2 linked regions of the Homo sapiens genome follow. The protein of the gene in region 1 interacts with the protein of each later gene in a biochemical or structural test. Each region holds a gene or a part of one and is shown on either strand. Other genes may lie near its edges.

Region 1 (3,500 bases):
TTTTTTTTTTTTTAATTTAAGAATCCAGGCTAGTTGTTTTATGCCACCTTAGTTTGGATTTGTTTGATTGTTTCCTCATGATTAAATTCAGGTTAACCGTGTTTGTCAAGCATAGTACATGGATTATTGCATTAGAATATGCATTCGAATGCATATTAGTATATTGCATTAGAAGGCACATGGTGTGAATTTGTGCTTATCATTGGTGGTAGTAAGTTTGATCACTTGGTTAAGGCAGTGCCTTCCAGATTTCCCAGTTGTAAAGGTACTTTGTTCTTTTTGTAATTAATAAGCAATCTGTGGAATGATATTTTGACACTGTGACAATCCTTTTTCCCGACAGTCTTTCACATAGTTGTTTTAGTATTCACTGATTCTTACCTGAATCAGTAATAGTATACTATAGTGATTGTAAAAATGGTGATTTTCTATTTCTGTAATCCCTTATGTATTTATTATTTGGCTTTCTTCTCTAAAGAAGATGTTTCTCTTCCTCCTGCCTCCACACTTACTTTCAGATCAGTGTGGACTTGTTCTGTTTTTAATTCATATATTAACTCATAATTTTATCCTTTATAGTGGTCTGGCCGGGCGCAGTGGCTCACGCTTGTAATCCCAGCACTTTGGGAGGCCAAGGCAGGTAGATTATGAGGTCAGGAGTTCAAGACCAGCCTGGCCAATATGGTGAAACCCCATCTGTACTAAAAATACAAAAATTAGCCCAGCGTGGTGGTACACACCTGTAGTGCCGAGAGGCAGAGGTTGCAGTGAGCTGAGATAGTGCCACTGCACTCCAGCCTGGGCAACAGAGCCAAGACTCTGTCTCAAAAAAAAAAAAAAAAAAGAAGTCTCCATGTTGGCTGGTGACATCCTTTTCAAGATGGTTCCTGTTTCTTCCTGACAGGTTCTTTTATTTGTTAGAACAGCAAGGTGTTCCAAGTTTACCCTGTTATTTTTCCTACCTTGGATTTGGCCATTTTTCCAAGGAGCTCAGGCTTTCCTTTAATGGAGAATGTTAAAGTCTGAGCACTAGACCATTACTATATATGTATGTCTTAACTTGCATGTAGAAGCCAGTGGGGGTGGAAGACATCAAGATACTACTAAAATCTCTGTAGTGCCCTGCACAATTTTAGACTCAGAGTATTCCTGCTGTGTGGTGTCATCAGGTTGTTCATACATAAGGACAACACATGGTGGCACTGGAATCAAGATTAGTTTTGTAAAATACAGAGCATTAAGCAAGTTTCCTATTTAAAAAAAAATGTTGGCATTTACGTTTTTGAGGTTTAAGTCTTTCTTGTACATTCATCTCTTCTATAGTTAAGGAATAATTTGTTTTTCCTTGCTTTGAAGCTGTGAGAGTGGGAATTTTTACCCTGGACACCAATTTTGATATTAGGGAAGAAACTAATTTACCTGAAGCTAATCAACAGCTTGAGGCTTGAGCCTACTGCTTTCTTTCACTATTTGCATATGTAGGTTTCACTTTTTCTTTTACCATTGAGTATTTTAATGTACATAATAATATTGATGAAGCCAGCCGCCCACAATTTAATGTTTCATGAATGCTTTCATTGACTATAGCATTAGACTTTGAAATTTTAGAATATTAACAGCTACATATTTATTCATTCAAGCTCTGTAACTTTTTATACTGAAAGAAAATAATACATAACATTTAATAGGGTGGAATTCACAGCTTGTCTTGCCGTGTTCTTCTTTTGTGCCGTTTTTTCCCTCCTTAATGAATTCCTAGATATCTGCATGGTATTTGAAGTTTTGGGGCATCATCTGCTCAAGTGGATCATCAAATCCAATTATCAGGGGCTTCCACTGCCTTGTGTCAAAAAAATTATTCAGCAAGTATGTATCTTGAATCAGCAAGTATCTTAGTCTTGACTATGTAGTGATTTTTTAATATTCTTGAAGTGTCAGGACTTTATTTTTTCCAATAGAATTTTTGTTTTAAGGCCGGGTGTGGTGGCTCATTCCTGTAATCCCAGCACTTTGGGAGGCCGAGGCGGGCAGATCACGAGGTCAGGAGATCAAGACCATCCTGGCTAACATGGTGAAACCTCCTCTCTACTCAAAATACAAAAAGTTAGCCGGGTGTCTTGGCAGGCACCTGTAGTCCCAAGCTACTCGGGAGGCTGAGGCAGGAGAATGGCGTGAACCCAGGAGGCGGAGCTTGCGGTGAGCCGAGATCACACCACTGCACTCCAGCCTGGGCGACAGAGCGAGACTCCGTCTCAAAAAAAAAAAAGAATTTTTGTTTTAAAATTCTTTGTTTTAAAAAGTAAGTTATTGGCTGGGCGCGGTGGCTCACGCCTGTAATCCCAGCACTTTGGGAGGCCGAGGCGGGCAGATCACCTGAGGTCAGGAGCTCGAGACCAGCCTGGCCAACAGTGCGAAACCCCGTCTCTACTAAAAATACAAAAATTAGCCGGGTGTGGTGGTAAGCGCCTATAATCCCAGCTACTCGGCAGGCTGAGGCAGGAGAATCGCTTGAACCCGGGAGGCGGAGGTTGCAGTGAGCTGAGATCGCGCCACCGCGCTCCAGCCTGGGCGACAGAGCAAGACTCCATCTCAAAAAAAAAAAAAAAGTTAATTGCTAAAATTAAATATTTCATTCAACCTTTAGAATTTATTGTGCTTATTCTCTTTTTAAATGTTTTAGCATAACCATTTTCCCCCAGGTTTGCCTCCTATAATAATTAGAAAGGGAAGCTGAGGTTCCTGACTTGGGAACATTGGAGCCCTTATCCAGAAGTTCTGGTTGCAAATAGTAATTTTACATGAATAGATAATTGCTATGTCAGATTATTGCCATCTCTTTATACAGCATGATTCATAGGCATTTTCTAATTTTCTAAAGAGCCTTCAATATACAGTATAGATTTTACCATCAGGAAAATATTAATACTTCAAGGTGCAAAAATTTGTTTGGATTATATGTCCTGGAAAGAGCTCCAAACTGGGCAGCAAGAGACCTCAATTCTTCCTCAGTGAGGAAATTTGAATTAAAGATATCTAAATGTCTGTCAGCACCTACATTACAACACTTAGAGGGTGTGTGTGTGTTGAAGTTTATTCTCAGTCTTTGCATTGTACATAGTTGAAGAATATCTCCAAATAGAATCAGCTTTGTAAAACATTGAAGAATTTTTTATTGTAAATAATTTCTTGCCTTTTTCATAGTTTAATCTTTCTGAGAAAGTTTATTTGTGCTTTTTTAAAAGGTGCTTTTATTCTCTATAGAAAACGCTATCATATCTTTTTTTTTTTTTTAATGTCATGTTATAATCTCTTACTTCTCCAGAAAGCCTGTATTTTGTGTTTGCAAGTCTGCCACTCTATTTCCATTCAGGTGTTACAGGGTCTTGATTATTTACATACCAAGTGCCGTATCATCCACACTGACATTAAACCAGAGAACATCTTATTGTCAGTGAATGAGCAGTACATTCGGAGGCTGGCTGCAGAAGCAACAGAATGGC
Region 2 (5,088 bases), about 99 Mb from region 1:
CTGACCTGGGTATACTCTGCTGACACAGCTCTGATTTCAATTTGTAACCCTAAGGATATGAAATGTCACTCAATTTACTAATTTCTGTTCTTCAGTATCTGAGAAGACCAGGGGATTTACAAATATTTAACATGGCAGGATAAGCAACATATTACATTTTGTAAATGCTATTAAGGAACATACGGTGGTGAGCTAAAACTCCCATCATGTACCTGGAAGCATCTGCTATCTATGGAATGAAGAAATATTCTAAAACTTATATCATGCTGAGCAATAAAAAACTAGCAGCAGCAAAACGCAGCAGCAAAAATATGAAAGCCAATCAACAGATGTATTATCAAAAAAGCTAAAATGACTGACCATTATAGGAATCAAATAGATTATTAGTTCACTTGCCAGCTCAACTAAGATACTAGGTAAATTCAAGTAAACCATTCTAACTTAAATTATACTGTTCTCAATGTCTTTACCTGCTTACTAGATAATGCAAAGAAAACTAAAAAGCCACATACTTTAGTAATGTGCTTGTTAAACTGAGAGGTGAAAATTATTTAGGCTTCTACTATTGCATCATATACAATTACATTGTTTTCCAAAATTGGCAACTGTCCAGCTAATTTTTCTTACTAGGATAGAAAACAGGTCTGTGATACTATAAAGAACTAAAGACACCCACAAAGAAAGAGAAACCATTATGATACAAATTCTGGTTTATCAGAAGAGCTAAGGAATACTGTGACCTGCTTTACAGAGCGTTACCTTATATGTTTATAATGGAGACTATCCAAGACTGCAAGAAAATACACATTAAAAAGGCATGAAAATCCAGATATATTCTCCAATAATCAGATTGAAGACATCAGGGAACACAGTTTAATCTCGTTAATCTAGGACTTCCACAGGACTTTATAGGTTTGTAAAGAGTCATTATTTTGACACAGTTGATATATCTGCCATTTCACTAATTATTAAGGTGTCCTTTGGCTCTCCTACCCTAGCTACCCTAACATGATCTATACTGACACTCTAAAAGGACTTCAAAAGAAATACTATTCTTTGGCCAGACAGTAACAGAGACAGAGGAGTAACTGACTGCATTATAGCTACAGAATTACTTGTTTGCAGACTGTCTCATAAAAACATAATATGTAAAGTATAAAAATGAATTGTTTGGTAATTTGAATTTGCTGGTTATTTAGATTCTACACAGAAGAGGTTTTATGACAGTTACCTTTCCTTTGTAAGCTGACATGAAATTAAAAGTCTTACTCATAATTTTAATTCAAAATCAAGACAATTTGACAAATACTTAGGGAAGTGACAACTGAAACTTATCCCATAGAATAATCAGCTTATGATTTTTACTGTTGTTTTTCTGCATGGCTTTTATTTTGTTTCTTTTAAACATTCTTTTAATCTATTTCTATAAAATTCAGAAGAGTAAAAACAGTATGCAGATTACATCAAAAAAGTCAAAATAGTTCCCTGATATCTAAAAGCTATTTTCTAAAAATAATCTCTAAAGTATTTCATATGTTTTACAAATTCAACACATATTACACACTTATTTTAGAAGACTGTATGATTTCAAACTGAAAATTTTGAAATATAGTGACTACCTTTCCCTTTCTTCGCCAGTTTCATCCAAGACCCATGCATATGCAAACGAAGCTTTGCCAGCCTTTTTAGACTCCTGTTCATACTTATGCATAGTTCTTTTGTTTATATTACCCAGAAGATAAAGCATATGGCCCATCAGAGTACTTTTCCCAGCATCAACATGACCTAAAGAAAATTGATTCAGGATTAATACCAGGTACATTTCCAGATGTTCACATTGAGGCATTGCATAAATGTGTAATTCAATATTTCATGTCAGTGGTTTACAGTAATACCAGTATTTATCAAATGACAGTTAAAACATCTAATAGAAAAAAAAAAGAGCATATCTCTTTACAGACGGGGGGAATTTCTCAGATTTTTGGAAATTAAAATTGTCAACAAGACACGCCAATTTCAAAATGTTCACAAAATGAAAAATCCCACAATCAAGTGTAATGACCTCTTTGGTAACTTGGCATTATCTCTCCCCACATGACTAGAAAGCATTATGAGACTGTGCCTCCTTGCTCTCTGTCCATTCCACCCATGGAGAAACTCAGAGTTTCCATGCTGCCTCCAGACAGTGGGCAGGCTAAGGCATGGCTGGCTGACGATCCAGAGGGACAAAGAGCATTACCAATGACCACTAAGTTGAGTAGCTGCTTCCCTCCTTGCCGCTTCTCCAGTTCCGCCTTCACATCTATTTGCTGCCTCAGCTTGCCAGACTTTTTCACCGGTGCTGGGGTTGAACTCTGCTCTTCTGATGCTTGAATCGTGTGGGGTGGATTAGCAGATTTAGAAGCAGTCTCAAGAACATCGGAAGAAGCAATGGCATCTTCAATGGGCGGTCCTTTTTGAGGTGTGTGGAAACTATGACCATTTTCTTCAGAAGATACTCTACAGAAGGCAGATAGGAAAAAAGTATTTGAAACCAACTCTATTGATGTCCTACAATGACAGAAGGGCAGAGAAACTGTTTCTTCATAATCCTTTATGCTCCAGACCAGAAATAATCTCTGCTAAGTAGCTAAAGTCTGTTAAGGTGGAAATGATAAGTAGCTAGACTCAAACCACACAAATACAACCGTGGAAGATCCCATGAGAAAAACTGTACCAAAAATGAAGATAAGAAGAAAATAATGTTGAAAAATAACTGAAATTCAAAATCAAGCCCACAGTCTTGGCCATATAATCCATCCTATCAAAATCAATGGTATGAAGGAGATATTTTGTAAAATTGGCACCAAATATATTACTGGAGATGAATTAGTACTAAAATATAGTTTTACTTCAACTCATCCTTCCAACATGATAGACTTATGATCTTTTTTACTCAAATACTACCCCGAGGGGAGATATCTCTAAATGACTACAGTTCATAAACATTTTTGACAGTGGAGCTTTAATTCATTAATTCAACAAACACTTGATTTATTAAAAACTACAACATATACTAGGGACTGATGTCAAAAAGAAAATGACATAGAAATTAAAAAGTTAACTACCACTCTTAAAAGATTACAATCTAGTGAGGAACTCAGATATATAAAGGAGAAACAAGACTGCCCAGCTTAACTTATTCTTTCCTTAACAAAAGTAAACACTGATCTTAGTTCTTCATGAGCTCGTTGACACTCCACATAGAAACTAGTACCAGTGCAACTCTGAATAGCTATAAGGAATGTGACCTAATAATCAGACTATGATATGCCTCACTTTGCTTTAACAACTATGGATAAACAGAATTAGGACAAAGAGCAGGTTAAATTGGAAGTTATTAAGAATGAAACCAATTATATCCAACTCTATGTGGAGCTGGCAAAGAAAAACTACATATAGAAAGCAATTTATAATAATCATTTAAGATTGTAGCATGATGGATATGTGTAAGCACATCTATTTTCTTCTTGCCTATTATAACAAAAAATACATTGGTTTTTCCCTGTCAGGGCATTTTTATATGCCCAACATTAGCCCTTCACAATACGCCTCAGGAAAAGAGTCACAATAGTTATATTTGCAACTTTATTTAAAGCCACATATCCATTCTCATTTTATTTTGCTTTTTCAAATCTCCACTAACCAATTTAGGTGTTCATTTTTGAGCACTGCTTAGACAGATGCACTTCATCTTAAACTAGTAGGTAAAAACAGTAATATGCAGGAAATGTTCCCATACTTTTAAAGGATTCTAACAGGCTAAATTAAGTGAAATCAAACAGACTATAATTTGCAAATATTTGTTTGAATGACCACAGCTAGTTCTAAAACCAAAACTTGACAATTCTATACTTAGAAGAATTTTTAAAGCCCCACAAATTATAATACAAGTGATCTACTGTGACTAGACATAGGCTCTGGTCTGAATCAGACCTGGCAGAAATCACAATCTCGGGCCCCAGATCTTTTTGTTTTTAGCTGCAAAACATTTTCTTCAGAGGCAAGCTTGCATTAAATTCAATATGGAAAACAGATCAAAGCAGACAGCTATGGTGGACAGAGTGGGCAGGGGCTTGAAGCTCAGCTCCCCCACCAATCCAGGCAGCCCTCAGAGGGGCTGCCAGAATAGGAAGGGCTTCACAAAACAGGGCTGACTTGATCATTTCATCTGCAATTCAATAACATGAAAGGTTTGTTTTCCTCTGGCTTTCAGGATAGCATTTTCATTTAAGTAAATCTTTTTCTTTTCTTTTTTTTTTTTTTTTTGAGATGGAGTCTCCCTCTATCACCCAGGCTGGAGTGCAATGGTGCGATCTCAGCTCACTGCAACCTCCGCCTCCCAGGTTCCAGCAATTCTCCTGCCTCAGCCTACTGAGTAGCTGGGATTACAGGCGCTGGCCACTACACCCGGATAATTTTTGTATTTTTAGTAGAGACAGGGTTTCACCACATTGGCCAGGCTGGTATTGAACTCCTGACCCCAAGTAATCCACCTGCCTCGGCCTCCCAAAGTGCTGATATTACAGGGGTGAGCTACTGTACCCGGCCCCTTTTAAGTAAATCTTAGGTAAACTGTAAATTAATTCACTAAAATTCTACAGTGTTAGTGGGAAATGACCAAAGTAATTAGAAAAGTATCCTAGGTAAGTCTGCCCTTAGTAAAAAAAACTTCTGCATATTATGAAATAAAAGTCAATGTTTTAAGATTTGAAAAATATCTAAGATAAGGTCTAAAAATGACCATTTGGATTTCAGGCCTATAATTAATTACTGACTGGTATGAATGAAAGAATAAGTTGGTTGGATTTTTTTCAGGTGCTTTCTGGTATCATTTTGTAAGCTTTTTTTCTTTCTTTCTTTCTTTCTGTTTTTTGAGATGGTCTCGCTCTCGCTGTGTTGCCCAGGCTGGAGCGCAGTGGTACAATATTGGCTCACTGCAGTCTTGGCCTCCCAGGTTCAAGTGATCCCACCTCAGCCTCTTAAGTAGCTGGGACCACAGGCAAGCACCACTATACCCAGCTAATTTTTTTTTTTTTTTGGTAGAGA

The links.
Region 2: of the proteins of SRPK1 (region 1) and HBS1L, one has a biochemical effect on the other in vitro, tested with the Homo sapiens proteins (one large-scale study listed by BioGRID and IntAct).

The regions. Positions count from the first base shown.
Region 1 is NC_000006.12:35,872,599-35,876,098, reverse strand, and holds part of SRPK1 (SRSF protein kinase 1), read left to right. Parts: intron 1-1,759; coding exon 1,760-1,866; intron 1,867-3,370; coding exon 3,371-3,500. UniProt on the Homo sapiens protein: Serine/arginine-rich protein-specific kinase which specifically phosphorylates its substrates at serine residues located in regions rich in arginine/serine dipeptides, known as RS domains and is involved in the phosphorylation of SR splicing factors and the regulation of splicing.
Region 2 is NC_000006.12:134,995,158-135,000,245, forward strand, and holds part of HBS1L (HBS1-like protein), read right to left. Parts: intron 2,500-5,088; coding exon 2,240-2,499; intron 1,786-2,239; coding exon 1,620-1,785; intron 1-1,619. UniProt on the Homo sapiens protein: GTPase component of the Pelota-HBS1L complex, a complex that recognizes stalled ribosomes and triggers the No-Go Decay (NGD) pathway.